Linked DNA regions of Homo sapiens: regions 2 and 3 are each linked to region 1. Evidence: fine-mapped expression QTL. A gene starts in region 1. Each other region holds a variant in brackets. All regions are shown on one strand. Distances are between the middles of the regions.

Evidence for each region.
Region 2: its variant is fine-mapped to the expression of COL23A1 in tibial nerve (GTEx, PIP 0.93).
Region 3: its variant is fine-mapped to the expression of COL23A1 in whole blood (TOPMed, PIP above 0.99).

Annotation. Positions count from the first base shown.
Region 1 is chr5:178,588,240-178,592,347 of GRCh38, reverse strand. It overlaps COL23A1 (collagen type XXIII alpha 1 chain), which reads left to right and starts at 1,955. Exons shown (of 29, transcript NM_173465.4): 1 at 1,955-2,444. The coding sequence starts at 2,151. RefSeq lists a silencer at 1,754-1,953 and an enhancer at 2,609-3,509.
Region 2 is chr5:178,469,648-178,473,755 of GRCh38, reverse strand. All of the region lies in intron 2 of COL23A1 (collagen type XXIII alpha 1 chain), which reads left to right. LOC124901148 (a long non-coding RNA gene) reads left to right here and starts at 916. Exons shown (of 2, transcript XR_007059080.1): 1 at 916-4,108. The variant C/T (reference allele first, on the strand shown) is at 1,799.
Region 3 is chr5:178,238,793-178,242,900 of GRCh38, reverse strand. It overlaps COL23A1 (collagen type XXIII alpha 1 chain), which reads left to right. Exons shown (of 29, transcript NM_173465.4): 26 at 507-560; 27 at 773-859; 28 at 3,722-3,760. Among named protein-coding and RNA genes, the nearest start is that of PHYKPL, 8.0 kb to the right of the region's middle. RefSeq lists enhancers at 1,917-2,036, 4,037-4,086, 4,092-4,108. The variant A/G (reference allele first, on the strand shown) is at 2,260.

The sequences.
Region 1 (4,108 bases):
GAGAGCAGGAGAGAGCAGTTGAGTATTTATTCTGTGAGCTCCCTCCCTTTCAAGCCATGGCTTTGCAGAGGCTGTTCCCCTTAACCAAGGGCCACAGGTGCTGTGGAGCAGCCCTCTTCTATAGCTCCAAGTTCCCCAGGGTTCCCAGTTAGGGATGGTAATGGCCTCCCACTGTCAATACCCGCAGAGTGCTGCTTCGGCCTCCCCTGCTGGCCCCTCTGATCTCCACTTTGTGAAGTGGCTCTACATTCAGGCTGTCTTGAGTCACCCTCTCTGAGGATGCCATCTATTCTTCCAGGACCCTAATGGACACAAGTAAGTCATTTTCTTTTTCGCCTTTTAGAATGAGTTGCAGACAGTATTTCCATCTTAATTCAGCCGCCCCAATTCCCTGATTAATCTTGTGGGCCACCTTAAATTGGGCAGTCTGGGAAGATCTTTTAGAAGCAGTGAGGTTGAGGACCTTGACCTGGAGGATGAGGAGGGGCTTGCCGTTTAACGATCTGAGAGCAGGAATGCAGGTAGTGAGGTGGTAGGCAAGGGCAGAGGCCCAGGGGCCAGTGAGCTTGGCTTTTTCAATACACAGAAGCTTCAGGAACATGGCAAACAATACATGCAGTAACATTAACATAGGTAGGTGGTGTGCAGTTTATGTGCCTGTAAGAAATGTAGTGCTGACTTGTAAGAGGGTGTTGGCCTCTTTTCAGAATGAGGCCAACTTTTCATTCTATTGGGCATACACCAGACTTTAGCACAGAGCCAAGTCTATCAACCATAACCCCCGGCCATCTCAGGGGTTCCCCTCTGAATTAAGGGAAGGAGATGGAACATGTTAGCCAGAGGCACTCAACAGTTCTAAAAGGTGAGTATCCACAGAAATGAGACAACCAGAAGATATCCAGAGTGAGAGGGAAGATGGATATAACGTTATTTTTCTTAAAAAAAAATGGTTGGGGGGTTACTCAAATCACAAAGATCTGAACTGCTGGTTTGTTGTTTCATTTAGGTATTACAGGAGTTAGCGAAAGAGTTACTTGGGACCCATTTAGGACATGAATATGCCTGGTAGGAATCTGAACCCAGCCTGACTTCCAGCAGTTCTTCCCTTTCCTGCCAAGACTTGTTAGTGCCACTCATTCTGTTCTCTGGACCCAGGCTGTACGCCACAGCCTTCTTGCCTCAGCCCTGTGATTTAAATTTGCAGCAGAATCGCAGTACAGGTTAAGTGTGGTGCATACTAGATCATAATTTTTGGCCAAGTTGTGCGTCTAATACAGAATTAAGTCATCAGTTGAACAAGACTTGAAGTTCATTTTCTGAATCTTTCCCATTCGTTATAGTCTCAGTTTTCTCAAAAGCCCTCTCCAGGCCAGAAACAGTCTTACCATTTTTGTTTCCCGCACCGAAGTCCGGCAGCTAAGAACTCGTGAGAAGATTCTAAGGGGCGTATTTCTGTTTGGCGCAATCTCGACCCTGCCTCTCTAAATGTGAGTGCGCAGAGGTCGCTTTCCGCCACGAAGCGGCGCTAATCCACCACCGAGGACAGACCCACTCAGTTTTTTGCAGGATTTGAAGTTTTGAACTTTTACAAGTGTCAGAAAGGTAATTCACAAGTTTAGAGGAATGTGCTAAGGCACGAGTGGTGGGTGCTCCAGCCAGGGGTGGGCTGCAGAAGGGGCGCGGTGTCGCCGGGCTCCCCTCCGACCTCTGGGGTCCACAGTGCGGGCTTGGGCTGGGGAAGCCTCAGAGGTGCGTGCGGGGGCGGGTGCCGGCGCCCGGGCTAGGTGAGGGCAGAGGTGCGCGCTGCGCGTGGGATCAGCCCGGCGCCGACGGGTGGCTCCGAGGAGCTCGCTCCTTCCTCGCCCCCGCCCCCTCGCCGCGCGGGGCCAGCCCGGCCGCTCCTCCCCTGGGTGGGTCCCTGCTCCTTTTCTGGCAGGGTCTATTTGCATAGAGGAAACTGCCCAAAGTGGCCGCTGTGGAGGAGCTGGCTGCGGCGAAGGGGGCGTGCGCGGCGATCCGCTGCTACCCGGAGGCTAACCCCCGCGCCCGGCGGACCTCGTGCCTCGGGCTGTCCCGCCTGCTCCTCTCGCACCCAGCCTCTGCCCCAGCAGCACCGCCCCCTCGGAGAGTCCACGCGCGACGAACGCGCCATGGGCCCAGGCGAGCGCGCCGGTGGCGGCGGCGACGCGGGGAAGGGCAATGCGGCGGGCGGCGGCGGCGGAGGGCGCTCGGCGACGACGGCCGGGTCCCGGGCGGTGAGCGCGCTGTGCCTGCTGCTCTCCGTGGGCTCGGCGGCTGCCTGCCTGCTGCTGGGTGTCCAGGCGGCCGCGCTGCAGGGCCGGGTGGCGGCGCTCGAGGAGGAGCGGGAGCTGCTGCGGCGCGCGGGGCCGCCAGGCGCCCTGGACGCCTGGGCCGAGCCGCACCTGGAGCGCCTGCTGCGGGAGGTGAGCGTCTTGGCGCGTGGCTGGGGCGGACTTGGGTGTGTCGGGTTGAGGGTGGCGGTACGCTGGGAGCCGGGGGCAGCGTGCAGGTCTCTGGGAGGAGGGTCGCCCGCCGGCTGCGTGCGCTCGGGGCCGTCCCAGAGATGGGCACGTCTGCGCCAAGGCGGAGGCAGGGGGTGCCGGCCCCAAGGGGTTTTGCGGTCTCCGCTCCGGCCTCAGGGTCCCGTGCCAGGCAGGCGGCCGCGAGAAAGGGGAAGGAGAGACCAGGGACTTTGGAGTAACAGACCTAGGGTCAGTCTCCACGGGGTGTGCGCTCGGACACGCCGCTTCCCGCCGGCGGCCAGAGTCGGGGATAAAGATGAGGCTCGTGGGAAGTATCTGGTGACTGTGACCAGTAGCACCTACTGTTCCTAACCAACGCTGGTACACCTGGAGAGGCGGTGGTCACGGCGGAGGAAAGCCTCAGACAGGCCCGAGGGCTGGGCCCCGCTGTGCTCCAGTGTGTCTCCAGCAGCTCAGGCCCCAAGACTGAGCGGTCACCGTCGCACTGAGGCCTCGGGGATGGGGGTGGGGGCGCCCACATGACTTGGTAAGATGAGAGGAAGGAGAAACAATCGGGGGTGGAGGACCTGGATTCTGGTTTCAGGCGGTGCCATCTGGGGTGTGGGCTCGCAGGACATCCGGAGTTTCCCGTCCCTTACCTGGGAATCGCGACTTCCACAGCTTACTTGAAAGCTCATATGAGGCTCTGTGACACTTCTAAGGGTTAAGATTGCTGCTGTGTGTCTTCAAAGAAAGAGCCACCTTTGGGTCCTCCAAGCCCTCACCCAGCATGTTGGTCAAAGCCTCCGCCTTTTGTGTGCGGCATGTGCGGCAGTTCCCCTCCCCACGAAACTGGACAGGCCCTGGTGGGCTGGCCAGAGCCTCCCCTGCCGAGCCTTCCTCCTTCTCCTGGGATAGATGGCTGCTCCAGACCCCAAGGTCGCTGTCCAAGGGCGCATCCTCAATTGCTGTGTGAAAACAGGCAGGGTTTCAAGGTGGAGGAGAGGGAGCACTGGCCTGTACACCCCCAATTCCCTAGACTGCCCAGCTGGGATCTTTATTAACGTATCCAGCTGTGTTTCCAATGTTGAGTTCCTTTGGATTCCAAAGGAAAGTGGGAGAAGATGACTTGCGTACCACACCTCCTTGTTCACCCCACCTGTTTCTTAGTCACTTTAATTTAAGCTAGGATCACATCTCTTCTAGCTGGGTTCTGGGTAAAATTGCTGCTTCATGAAATGATTTCCTATTTTACCCTTGAAAGGGCCTGCAGACTTAAAACTCTCTCTCAGCCCTGCTGGAAACTCCTGGCGATGGTTTCATAATTGCCGCCCATTAGCTTTTGGCAAATGCCTGGAGACCAGGGTGTTGAATTGATTTATAGAGGGCCAGTAAAGTTTCTACCTGTTAGCGCTATAAGTGTGGCTGCTCTTTCTCATAGGAGGCCTCTCTTATTTGCTAAAAATAAACCGCAAGCCCTGATTGAGTAAATCAGAAGTCCTGATACAACCATTTTACAAGGAACTACAAATTGTGTCTATTTTAGGAGGGAGGGGCATCCTGGGCAGGCAGCCACTGCTGGGAAGTGTTGATTTTTGAGTCCTGAACTTCAGCGGGAGAGACTG
Region 2 (4,108 bases), 120 kb after region 1:
GGAGTGCAGGGGTTTCGCTAGGGTAAGGCTGATCATAGGTGAATGTTGGAAGAGTAGAAACAGTATAGTCAGTCGTCCCTTGGTATCTTCAGGGCATTGGTTCCAGGATCCCTCATAGGTACCCAAATCCAGAGATGCTCAAATCCCTCATATAAAATGGCATAGTATAATCCCAGCACTCAGGGAGGCTGAAGTGGGTGGTTTGCTTGAGCCCAGGAGTTCAAGACCAGCCTGGGCAACATGGCAAAACCCCATCTTCACAAAAAATACCAAAAAAAAAAAAAAAAAAAAAAATTAGCCGGATGTAGTGGCTCATGCCTGTAGTCCCAGCTACTCTGGAGGCTGAGGTAGGAGGGTCATTTGGGCCTGGGAGGTCAAAGCTGCAGTGAGCTGTGATTGTGCCACTGCACTCCAGCCTGGGTGACAGAGTGAGACCGTCTCTACAAAAATAAAGTCAAATGGCGTGTACTTGCATTTAACCTAAGTACATCCTCCCTCATACTTTAAGTCTCTAGATTACTTATAATACCTGATACAGTGTGAAAGCTATGTAAATATTGTTCTACTGTATTTTTATTTGTATGATTTTTTGTTGTGTTGTGATTTTTATTATGATTTTTTTTGGGGGGATGGCGAAGAGAGTCTTGCTCTGTCACCCAGGCTGGAGTGCAGTGGCACAGTCACAGCTCACTGCAGCCTTGACCTCCTGGGCTCAAGCGATCCTCTCGCCTCAGCTTCCTGAGTAGTTCGGATCACAGGTGCGTGTGACCACATCCGCTAATTTTTTAATTTTTGTAGAGATAGAGTCTCACTCTGTTGTCCAGGCTGGTCTTGAACTCCCAGGCTCAAGCAACCCTTCTGCCTCAGCCTCCCAAAGTGTTGGGATTACAGACATGAGCCACTGTGTCCTGCCTGTGTATTTTTTAAAAATATTTTCAATCTGCGGTTGGTTGAGACCGTGGATGTGGAATCCATGGATATGGAGGGCTGACTGTTCACTGGCTTTTGGATAAAAATCCCAGCTCTTCCACTGACAAGCTGTGCGATGCTGGGCAAGTCACTTAAGCAGCCAGAGCCTCACATTTCCCATCTACAAAATGGGAATACTAACACTTACCTTTAAGGGGTGGAAATTAGGACTGATGCATTATAAGCACCTGGCACCCATGGATGCTGCTGCAGCCGTTGCTAATATTATTAATATTGACAGTGCCTTACCTTTCATAATGTATAAGCCATATCTGACTGTGCATCAGAAATAGCTGGGAAGCATTTAAGAAAAATTACTGGGCCCCATCCAAGAACTCCGGAATCAGACTTTCTTGGAGTAGAACCAAAGCATGCTGGCACCTCACTTGCTCCTCCAGGTGCGCCCCACACCCTTATCCACCTGCTCTGGGCCCCAGGAGGCTGACTCCCCATTGGGACAAAAGTGCACATTGGGATAGACTGTGGCTCCCCATTGGGTCTCAGTTGATTCGACTGAGAGTCAGGATGGATCAGCAAAGGGATGTTCCTTCAAGCCCCTTTCCCACAGCTTTTCCATGCAGCTTCCTCTCTTCAGCGCCTGCAGTCCTTGGGGTTGTTTTAAACAATACCCAGGATTTTTATTTAAGACAGGGTCTCACGCTGTTGCCCTGGCATGATCATAGCTCACTGCAGCCTCGACCTCCCCAGGTCAAGCCATCCTCCCTCCTTGAGCTCCCACAGCACCGGGATTAGAGGTGTGAGCCACCAGGCCCGGCCTGCACCCAGGATTTTAATCAGCCATGGATTAAGATGACAACCATGGAGACAA[C/T]TGCTTGAAAGAAGAGTTTCTTACTGACGATTCGACAGCACAACAGGACCATATGGGGAAGCACCGGAGTCAGTCAGGGGGTGGAAGGAGCTGGGGCATGGACTGTGGGAAGGGAGGGGCGAGGCAAGCTGAGCAGGGTTCGGATTGGCCAGTTCAAATAATTCCAGTGGGCTCTGGGCTACAGGGCTGGTCTCTAGCTGTCACATACCTGGCCCATGGGTGATGAGGGCAGGGGTGTGAGAGTTACATAAAGCGGGTGGTTGGGGCACAGCTTTGGCTTGGTTGGTTTGATAGGGAGAGGCAGGTCCAAAGGCAAGGTGCTTGCTATCTCTAGGAGTTAGCTAGCCCCAGGAAGGGAGTCTCTCCCTGGCCAGCAAGGCCCAGAGATGTTTCACAGCATCAGAAAATATAAAAAGCAGGCCAAGGCACAGTGGCTCACACCCGTAATCCGAGCACTTTGGGAGGCCGAGGCGGGTAGATCACCTGAGGTCAGGAGTTCAAGACCAACCTGGCCAACATGGCGAAACCCCATCTCTACTAAAAATACAAAAATTAGCCAGGTGTGGTGGGTGCCTGTAATCCCAGCTACTCAGGAGGCTGAGGCAGGAGAATCACTTGAACCCAGGAGGCTGAGCTTTCAGTGAGCTGAGATCGCACCACTGCACTCCAGCCTGGGTGACAAGAGCGAGACTCTGTCTCAAAAAAAAAGAAAGAAAACATAAAACGCATGATTACTCAGGGGTGATAAATGCACCCACTGTTCCAACCTCTGGGAACTGCACTGTCCCTTGTGCACAGCTTCCTGAGTAACTCTCTCTTAACTGCTCTGCAAATTAGCCATTGGGGTGCCCTCTGTTTCCTGCAGGGACCTGACCAATACACGAGGAATCCCCAGGTGATCCCAAGGCAGCCAGGCACTGGAGCAGATGCTTTTTCAGAACCACTTCGTGCACTGCACAGAGCTGAAAGTTAGCAAAGCTCAGAGGGTCTGGTTGGATCTTCACAGTAAGTCTATGGAAGGAATATTTAGGAATGGACAAAAGTGCACACTCTGGGGCTCCTGAGGGTTCCCAGGTGACCGCAGCAGCCTTCACACAGGCTTCTCCAGCGCAGCTCTCAGCATGAACGGCCGCTCAGTGGGGCCCTGGAGGCGGTGGGCTCCTTGAGACAGGAGGTATCTGGGTCCAGTGTCTTATGGGAAGTGCCACTGTATTCTGTGGGAGCCTTGATGCTTCCAGGAATACTGGGGAAATTTCGGGATTTCCAGCCCAGCAGGCAGGATGCTTGTGTCGTATGAGCGGGTGTTTCCCCCATGGCCTCGTCTTTGACCCACGTGCTGGCTTCCATCCCCTCCCTGTCTTGCACCTCTGTGTTCTCTCTCACCCTCTGGCCTGTTAATGAGCTTAGATTTAGACCTTCCCAGTCTTCCTGCAGGGGCCCTCTGCTCGACACTGACGGCTTGCCGTGGCTTCTGGCTGGGGTCTGGGTGGGGAGCTGGGAGTCCTCACGTCCTGGGTTTTAGGTGGTTTGTCTAGGCAGTCTTTCCAGTGAGGAACAGTTCTAATTGGCGGTGGGTTTCCAGGGGTCTGCTCGGCTTATGGGCACTGTGCTTGCCCAAGGACACTGGCTCCTGGCTAAGGGAAGACATGGGGCAGGGGGCGTGGAGCCAGGTGGAGTCAAGAGCTCACGGTAGCGGACCAGGAGGGACAGACGCTGGATGGCCAGCTCAAAGCAAGCTTCGTCCCTGAGAAGTGCCTGGAGGAAGAGCTGCACCAGGTGTTGACCAACCAGGACTTTGCATTAATTTATGTGTTTAGCCCGCCAGCTGCTCTGTTAGGCAGATGTCTGCAGGCTGAGCCTCTCAGTGTCTGGATATGGAGATGATGGAGTACTTTGGAATTAGCAAGATAAAGTTTTAAAGGGACTGATTTAGCTGGCTAGAGTGACTGCTTGCACCGGTAGACAAATGGGGTGGAAATACTTTTAAATGAACTGTGATGATTGCCATGAGAAAGACCAGTGAGAGGAGGTGCCTGGGAAGATAAAAATCAAACCCAGTTAGCATGACGAAAGCTCCCTTCTGGCCTCTGCACAGGGGATGAGTGGTTGGAGACGGTTCCGTGGCCCGACCCTGCGAGACCATTAGGACTTTCAGGGGGAATGGCCACCTCCTCCCCACGACCGATTCTGGTTATCACCAGCGGCAGGCAGCTTCCCTCGGCGAGGGTCCTCTTGATGGCTCTGCAGACAGGACGGGGGCTCTCTGAAGAGGGGAGGTACTGGCGGAAGTCCCCTGGGCTCCATCAGAAA
Region 3 (4,108 bases), 350 kb after region 1:
TCTGTGTCCCCAGTGTCCAGCCAACAGCCCGGTTCCTAGTGGATGTTAAGCCACCTTGGTTGGGTGGACGGACAGATAGATGAATGGACAGATGGGTGTGCAGGAAGTTGAGCCAAGGGCACAGAACAGAGATCACCATTTCTCATCCCATCAGACAGTGACATAACTTCCATGGTTTCCGGGGTCTCTGTCCCCAGCCAAGCCTAGACCAGTGCCAGCCGCGTCTGTGATGTGAGAGACAGCCCCTTGCCAGCAGCTCTGCCTGAGTGTTGGTGTCCAGCGACTACTTTGGAGCAAGCCCAGCTGGCATCGTAAATGCATGCTCTTCCTACATCAGCCTTGTACCCAGCAGTGTATCACCTACAGCTAGGGCTAGGCCAGCGTGTGCCACGAATATGCAGGGGGGAAAGTGGGCGTGTGGATGGGAGAGGAACAGAGATGAGCCGGTAACAGAGGGGCAAACCTCCAGCCTCATTTTCGGGTTTAGCATCTAATCCTTTTGTCAGGGTTTCCCTGGACCCCGAGGAGAGAAAGGTGATCGGAGCGAGCGTGGAGAGAAGGTGAGGGCAGCTGGACGGGAGCTGGGGCAGGAGGAGAGGGGGAAGGAGGCAGGTGGGAGTGGAGGCTCAGGTGAAGCAGGTAGAGAGAACCCAGGCCGGGCAGGTGGGCGGAGGCAGGGGGAGGCTGGCCCCACGCGCTTCTCTCGGAGAGATGTTGGAGGTTCCTAAGCCTGGCAGCCATGACCAATACCACCATCTCCCCTCCTGCACAGGGAGAACGAGGGGTCCCCGGCCGGAAAGGAGTGAAGGGCCAGAAGGGCGAGCCGGGACCACCAGGCCTGGACCAGCCGTGTCCCGTGGTAGGTGTCGGAGGAGGGCCCTGCCCCAGGTCTTTTTGGCCTCCAGCCAGGGTCAGCCCAACATCTTCCCTGTCCTCGGAACTCAGCTGCAAGTCCCAGAGGCCCCACTGGTCACGCACTGGCCTTCCTCACTGTCAGGGCCACTGCTGCTGCTACTGCCATCATCGCGGTTCCCCTTGCTCTGGTCCTAACCACCCCCAACCATGGGCATGACTCAGGGAACCCAGCCCCTCTGTAGAGCTGGAGGCCCAGCCCCTCATTCTTCACCCCCAGGACAGGCCTGGCTTGAGTAGGAACCCACTGTGGGCCATCTTGGGCTGGAAGTGGACAGGGCCTAGACCAGGAGTGGAGGGGCTTTACCTGGAGTCATCAGCACCATCAGCGGTGCCCTGGGAGGGGGCTGGGCCCTGCGGAGGGAACCAAAGTTAGCACAGACACGCTGCCGCTGGGGGCGGAGGCAGTGAGTGCCCAGCCCCATCGCTGTGGTCTGGCTGCCTGGGGTGGAAGTCGGGGTCTGACTCCCACTGGGCCTGAGGCCAAGCTGAGCTGAAACTCAGCTTCCCCAAGCACAGACGGTGGGACCACCCTGACCTCTCTGGCTGGCTGTGCCTCCCCTTCCTTCCTCCTTCCCAGAAGAGTCTCTCTGGGCTGGGGCAGCACCTCCCTCTTCCCCACATCCCCTCTGCCTACCCCCACACCCTTCCTGTACCTCTTTCTGTGCTCTCTCAGTGGCCTTTGGCAGCCCACCAGCCCCAGTGGTTTCAGGCACTGGTGCCTGAAACAACCACAGTTCAAAAGTCAGCTCCATTTATTTCTTTTCGGAGACAGAGTCTCACTCTGTCGCCCAGGCTGGAGCGATCATGGTTCACTGCAGCCTCCATCTCCCAGGCTCAAGTGATCCTCCTGCCTCAGCTTCCCAAGTAGCCAAGAACTACAGGCATGCACCACCATGCCCAGCTAATTTTTAATTTTTGTAGAGCTGGGGTCTTGCAATGTCGTCCAGGCTGGTCTGGGCTCAAGCGATTGTCCCACCTTAGCCTCCCAGAGTGCTGGGACGACAGGTGTGAGCCACTGTGCCCTGCCTAGTTCCTTTTTCTAGAAAGTAGGGAGGGTTTACATGTCACACTCTTCCGGTGGAGCTCAGAAAAGACAGGAAAAACAGAACAGCTGGGTTTTCGTACTAAAACTGGACAGATATTCAGACGTGGCCACTCCAGCCACGGGGATGTGTGCAGGCCGGCCTCAACCTCCAGCGGTGCCAGAGTTAGAGACCCCCTCCCAGACCTCTGGCCTCTGTTCCTCAGTGTCCTTATCCCTGCAGTGGGGGATACCGCTCCCCTCGGACAGTTTTGAGAAGTCAATGAGAAAAGGACTTGAAGAGCGAAGTGGTCAGCGCACAG[A/G]AAGGGCGGGGACAGCAGGGGCAGGGTGGCCCAGCCCCGCAGCTCCGGGGCCTGGCCCAGGACTCCCCTCCAAATCAGTAAGCCCTTGTCTCCTTTGAAACAGGAGAATCCCACGTGCGGAGGCCGGAGAGGGGCACCAGGCTGGCGGGGCCCTGCGAGGGGCAATGGGCCATGCCCTGCGGTAGGCGGCCTGGCCTGCTGTGTGCCGTGTGCCGTGTGCTGTGTGGGCCTTCGGGGCAGCCAGGGCCCTTGGCTCTGCCCCGGCCTTCCTCGCTTCTGCTTCCTTTCCATTCTGCCCCCCTCCCCACCTTCCCTTTGGTGCCTAGCCTGGTCCCTGGTGTACACATGGGAATATTCCAGGGGATGCCCAGTGTCTGAGGCTCATTCCTGTGCTTTGGAACAGAATGACATGTTTTGCGCCTTGGTGTCCCTGATGAGTCAGTCTTCGTTCCTCTCCAGTTTCCCCACCCTCCAGGCTGCCTGAGGAAACCCGGCCCCTGCTTATGTCTGGCTCCTGGGTGGGCACCACAGGTGCCGCTAGATAGCCCTACCCCAGGCCCAGCCCCAACCCCCAGCAACCTGAGCCTGCCCTGCTCCAGCCAGCACAGGCTGGAGCAGGATGCCAATTCCTGGGCCATCCTTAAAACCCTCCAGGAGCCATTCCTGCCCAAGGCCTGAAAGCTCGCAGGCCCCAGGGTGAGGAGCCAGAGTGACCGTCACATCAGGCAGGAAGCCACACGGCTCTCAGCAGGACCCAGGCCAGAGTCACTGTCACATCAGACAGGAAGCCACACGGCTCTCGGCAGGACCCAGGCCAGAGTCACTGTCACATCAGGCAGGAAGCCACACGGCTCTCGGCAGGACCCAGGCCAGAGTCACTGTCACATCAGGCAGGAAGCCACACGGCTCTCGGCAGGACCCAGGCCAGAGTCAGTGTCACATCAGGCAGGAAGCCACACGGCTCTCGGCAGGACCCAGGCCAGAGTCAGTGTCACATCAGGCAGGAAGCCACACGGCTCTCGGCAGGACCCAGGCCAGAGTCAGTGTCACATCAGGCAGGAAGCCACACGGCTCTCGGCAGGACCCAGGCCAGAGTCACTGTCACATCAGACAGGAAGCCACACGGCTCTCGGCAGGACCCAGGCCAGCCTGTACATGTCTGGCACAATGCTCATCCCTTCCTAGTGCCCTCCTGTTCCTGCCCACTGCACAGCAGTCCCCACAAAGCACAGAGGGAACACACTCAGGACAAGCTCAGTGAGAGGCCGTCGTTCCCCATGACCCCATGACCCCACTACCTGGGTGGACAGAGGAGGCATTGTGCCCCTGCCTCAGTGGGGCCCAGCAGTCTCACATGGCCGCTCCCTGGCCTGCACCTCCCTACAGACCAGGGGAGGGCATGTGGGGTGTAGAGGAGCTCCCCAGGCCCCATCCCCATCACTGAAACCTTCTTCCTTTCCAGGGCCCCGACGGGCTGCCTGTGCCTGGCTGCTGGCATAAGGTACCGTGCAGGGAAGTCTCCAGGGCAGGCTTGGGAGAGGCAGGGGAGGGTGGGGGAATGGGAGGGCCCCAGAGCCTGGGTGCTGTCACTCAAACCTCTGGGTGTCTGCGGCTTCTCGCACAGTGACTGAATAGCCAGGTTTCCCATCATGACCCTGGTTTTGACTCTCCCATCTTGCATGTGAGGCGTGGGGCTGTGGTCCTGGGTGATGGTGTATAACCCATCCTGTGGGTCACATGGACTCAACTGACACCTGGACCAGGCAGGGCAAAGCCATCAGTGCCCCCTGGGATATTGTCCCAACTGGCCCACTGAGAGGGAGTGGGGGGAGGGAAGATAGGAGGAAAT